Linked DNA regions of Homo sapiens: region 2 is linked to region 1. Evidence: fine-mapped expression QTL. Tissue or cell type: minor salivary gland. Region 1 holds a variant in brackets; the other region holds the start of a gene. All regions are shown on one strand. Distances are between the middles of the regions.

Region 1 (2,764 bases):
TTCAAATGATGTGAAAACATCTATAAACTACTTGAGTTAAATATATATATCTATGTATAAAATCAAGTATCTTGCCAAATATTATCAATTTAAAACTAGGATTGTGCTTTTTAAAATATAGATACTAATTGTCTGAAAAAACTCATGTATTTGATCCTTTTCATCTTCTCAAATGTGTAATAAACAAGGTAAGATCATGAAGGGTAGAAAATATCTGCTGGCAAACTCTGAACTTAAATATGACTCCTGCTAAAATGAAATGTGTAGTCCTTATTGTCTGAGGAATATTGGAAACACATAAAGTTTGGGGGTGAGAGGAGATGTGTACAAAACCAAATCTATCTTCTTTAATGTAGTATATAAACTTCCCACAGCTAGCAATCCTGATTATTCAATTTTCTGAAATAAATTTGGACTTCAGCTACCCAGATACCTTGGATAAAGGTAGTCTTTGGAAAACTGTGACAACAAAGTATTTTTCAGGCTTCAATATACTGGATAATCGGTATATATGGAACCAAAAAAAGGGATGAAAGAGGAAATTCACATGGCCTCACACAGGTGTACTTTAAATTCCTCTCTTATGTGTTTAAACTACTGGGATGTGGGGATGTATGTACACTGTGTCAACCAACACACTGCCCCTTGGCTTATGGTTACAGTCCTAATGCGGAAGAGAGAATGGCCTAATGGGTTTGCCTTTGACAGAGTTTTTCAAAACTAGAATTATTCAAAACACAATACTAACAACATTTATTATAAAGAATACCTCTGAATAGTAGTATAAAGAGGCAAAGTAGTATGAAGTGAAAGCGATGAAGAGAAAATCCATGGAGGCTTTTTTAACCAAATTTAGGAAAGCCTCTGCTCCTCTTCATGCCTCAGTTTCCTCATCTATTAAAGAAATGGGTTAGATATGATAGCCTCTATTGGCCCTTCCAGGTCTGACATGCCAAAAATTCTCTATTGCTCCTCACATTACCCTAATCTGGGAGCTCAAGGAGTACCTCTGGCTTAATTAACCATGCAGATAATTGTGTGCTCTAGCTGGGCTCAGTGGTGCACCTGACTTGGGAGGCTGAGATGGGAGGATCGCTTGAGGCTGAGAGTTGAATAGTGCAGTGAGCTATGATCACACCTGTGAATAGCCACTGCACTCCAACCTGAGCAACATAGTGAGATCTCATCTCTAAATAATAATAATAATAGTAAATCTTTTTAAAAAATTAATAAAATTGTGAATTCTGACGTAAGTCCAATGCCTTTTGATTTACTTTTGGGGTCCTGGATTTCCACTCAGTTCCTCTCAATCCAATCATAAAATCTTATAGTCCACAGAAACTGTAAATATTATCCAGTCCTCTATTACTGAGATGAGAAGCCTAGGATTTAAAAATTTGCCCAAAGTTATGCATAGTGGCACAGTCAGAACTAGAACCCAGGTTTCTTGACCGCCAATCCTCTATTCTCTATTCTATAATGTTGCTTCTTGCTATATGTGGGAGACAATGTCTAGATTAAAAATTACAGAAAACGTCAAAAGTCCACAAGCCTCTGGAGTCAGAATCAGAAGCAGGAGAGCCAATTTATTTATGATTGAGTAGAGGTTGTTTGAAAAAAATTAATAAAACATTGTTTAAGAGGCTAAGTGCCTCTAGGGATAAGAATCTGGCCTCCTTTGCCAAGA[C/T]GGAACTCAATGAAAACTAAGACTAACGTGTAAATGTATTTTTGTTGAAGTTTTTCCCTTGAGATTGGGGGAGGGCAAACTGATTTAGATAAAATGAGATCTGACCTCGGCTGATCCAAAACTCTTGCCCAAGACACAAAACAAAGCCCCAATAAAACTCTAGTCTTGGTTCAAACAAAGGTCAGTAAAGGGGAGGGGGGATAAGGATGGAGACTGAGAAATAAAAGCATTTGTTGATTCTCTTCCTGACCAAAAGTCGCACTGCCAAATTGTCATAAGAAAGGCTGTTTATACAGACGCCCCAGCCCAGCTAAAATAAAAGTAGGAGTCAACTCGTCAGATTTTACACTTGGTTCCCAAGTAAGAATAGTTCAGTGTAGCTTCTGAATTTCTGGCTCCTTCGATAAATAGGTTTCTTTGGTATCAGGAAGTTATGCATTAAGAGAAAAAAGTGTGGACATCTTTCCTGGGCAGGCAGCATCTGAATACATTATTTAGTGTTCAAGCATACCAAAGATTAAAAGAAGAGATCCCACAAAGCTGAGAGCAGCCATTGTATAGAGCAGGCCTCTTAGGTCAGCTAAGGAGGAGGCTGGGAAATAGGTCAGCAGCTACAAGACCTTAGTGAAAACACAAGCTTGATCCCAAGAACTAGACACAGACCTTGATGTTCCCTAACAGAAATTCAAGAAACATTAAGGCTAATCCATAATGGAGAATCCATAAAAGAAAATGGAGAACTGTTTTTGGTTTTGTTTTCAAATTTATGCCACAAAATTCTTATGCAATCCATACCTTGAGATGGCAGCAGGAAGAGAGGGTTAGATTGAATGGATCAGTGTTTTGATTGAATGTGACATACGCCATATTTCATAAGCAATTCAGTTTATCTTTTGAAGGGCAAAAATAAGTGATTTAGGCAAAGCATGTTTAGAGGCAGAAGTCATCAAACTTTTACTTAGGTTAATTCACTTAAAATACAATTTGCATGACTTCAAACTGCAAATTGAACTGAAAAAGTGGCACCAGCCAAAGCAAAGATAAGCAGGAAATAGGTCCACAGGTCCACAAGACATT
Region 2 (2,500 bases), 240 kb after region 1:
GAGTCTCAATTGGTTTCTACGGGACAACTCACTGCGGGCTACCGCCCTGGGTGGGTTTGGCAATTGTCCTGCTCGAGGTGGTTCAGGCCGCCCACAAGGGGCACAGCCGGGCAGTCAGGAACCGGGGCTGCCGGCTGGGCTGGCCTGCAAAGAAGAGGGAAGGGCCGGAACTGCAACCGCAGTGGCGGGGAGTGCGAGGGGGCGGCAGGTGCAGGAGCGGGAGGCGGGGCGGAGCTGGGCAGAGTCCTCGCCAGTCCGGCGTCCCGGAGTGACCTTCCCCCACCCCGCCAGCGCCCAGGAGGGGTGGACCCACAGCCCAGGGAGGCCGAAAGCGCGGGCGGGCAGGCAGAGGCGTGGAGGCTGGGCCAGGACTGCCGGGCTGGGGTCCTCGAGGCTCCGGGCGACCCAGGTGCGGATCCCCCAGCCACGGAAGGGGCGGTTCACGCCCAGCCGGGAGCTGGGAGGGGGCTGCGCGGCGCTGCCTGCGCGTCCCTCACCGCCGCCCCCGCCTCCTCCTCGCCCCGCGCCCAACGCCCCGCGCCCAGCGATCCAAGCGGCCCCTCTAGCCCCGGCGGCTCCTTTGTGCCGGCCCCGAACCCGCCCTCTCGGGCCGAGTCCCTGCCCCTGGCGCCGGCGATTGGCCACCGGGCCGCTAGAGGGCGGGGCGCACGGCCGCCGGGGCGCGGTATATAGTAAAGGTAGGGCGGGCGCAGCCAATTCCTCGGCTCCTGGCGGGAGTGCCGGTGGCGCCCCGCAGTCCGCTTGTCCGTCCTTCCCTCTCTGACTCTCCTACCCCGGGCCTGTCTCTGCAGAGGTCAGGGGAGGCGGGGGCCCAGCACACGTCCCCAGTGGCAGCGGGAGCGGCAGCTACGGGTTCGCGGAGCCCCCGACCCCCCAAGGGCTAGAGGAGCGCTCGGCGGACCAAAGAAAGCCCGCGAGCGGCTGCGCGCCCACCAATAGGTGCGGGGCTCGGAGCCGCGCAGCCTGCGCCGTCCCTCCCTCCGCCCCCGCCCCGCCGCCGCCGCCGCCGCCGCCTCCCCCTCCTCCTGCTCCTGCCTTGGCTCCTCCGCCGCGCGTCTCGCACTCCGAGAGCCGCAGCGGCAGCGGCGCGTCCTGCCTGCAGAGAGCCAGGCCGGAGAAGCCGAGCGGCGCAGAGGACGCCAGGGCGCGCGCCGCAGCCACCCACCCTCCGGACCGCGGCAGCTGCTGACCCGCCATCGCCATGGCCCGCGGGAAAGCCAAGGAGGAGGGCAGCTGGAAGAAATTCATCTGGAACTCAGAGAAGAAGGAGTTTCTGGGCAGGACCGGTGGCAGTTGGTGTAAGTACGGGGTCCGCAGCTCCCGGCCGCCGCGTCTGATCTTTCCCGGGCGGCGCATCCCCTGCGCAGGGTCCGCGGCCGGTTCCGCACCCACCGCGCTGGCCGGGGTGGCGGGGGCGAGGGTGGTGGACGCTGCTGGGTCGCGCCGGCCTGGGCTTGCAGTCCTGTGCGGAATGCGGTGTCCCCAGAGTGGGGCGCAGGGTCGGGGCTGGAACACGACAGGCGGAAGGTTATGCATATCGTAGCGATCTTGGCTTGGTAATTTGCAGTCTTTCCTACCGTGCATCGGTTGAGCCTTTTACTCCTGGGAATAGTCAGGCTCTGCGAGACTACATTTGTCTCTCCCGTGTCCTGAGTCCTTAAAAAAAAAATGAGATCTGGGGTCTTGAGAGAACCTCGTGAGGTGATGGGATCTAATGCAGACGAGGTTGTGTGTTACAGCATCTTTCTTCTAGTCTAAATACGTATCTCAAAAGAGAGGAAAGAGAAGGGTGGAGAGGAATCCATCCACACTGTAGTATTTCACAGCGATGGCTAAGGATTTCCCTCCATGACCTCCCCTGGAGTCATCACCACCCAGAAATGGTTCAATAAGCTCCATTTCAGGACTCCGATTCTTAGCTTTGGCCCGAAACCTGGCAAAGTCTGGTTGTTTTCAAGGTCTACACAGACAGTTGTGGATCAGTCAGTAGGTTGGGTTGATTATGGTGAAGGGAATATAAACGCAGAGCAGCTGATCTTAAAATATTTTGTGCAGCCTGTTGCTTGGTTGGATAGACTTTTTTCCATCGAAAATTAGATTTCTTGTTTTCAGCCTCTCCGGAAAGGTGACTTTTTTTTTTTTAAAAAAAAGGTCATTTTGAAGGGCAGAGTTGTAGGCGAATCTATGAGTCGTGACTGCGTGAGGGAAGGAGGGAGGGAACTCCCCCTGCTGCATCACTGCCCCCTCCTCCTCCAACATCATCATCATCATCATCATCATCATGACCATCACCACCAACACCACTGGCACCACCACTGCAGTCATTCAGGGAGTCCTGAACAGAGGCCGATTGGTGTTCCTGCTTGGGAGGATCTGTGGGAATCGGCAGGAGAATGAGTCAGGGAAATAGTGCTTAGCTGACATTTTGAAATGGAAGAAGCTGGAATATATGAATTTTTGTAAAGAAAAAAAAATGCAG

The links. PIP is the estimated chance that this variant, and not a neighbour inherited with it, causes the effect.
Region 2: it holds the start of ATP1B1, and the variant in region 1 is fine-mapped to the expression of ATP1B1 in minor salivary gland (GTEx, PIP above 0.99).

Annotation. Positions count from the first base shown.
Region 1 is chr1:168,862,176-168,864,939 of GRCh38, forward strand. All of the region lies in intron 1 of LOC105371606 (a long non-coding RNA gene), which reads left to right. Among named protein-coding and RNA genes, the nearest start is that of LINC00626, 77 kb to the left of the region's middle. The variant C/T (reference allele first, on the strand shown) is at 1,688.
Region 2 is chr1:169,105,608-169,108,107 of GRCh38, forward strand. It overlaps ATP1B1 (ATPase Na+/K+ transporting subunit beta 1), which reads left to right and starts at 1,083. Exons shown (of 6, transcript NM_001677.4): 1 at 1,083-1,319. The coding sequence starts at 1,223. RefSeq lists enhancers at 1-73, 564-858, 647-1,219, 1,220-1,792 and a silencer at 131-1,050.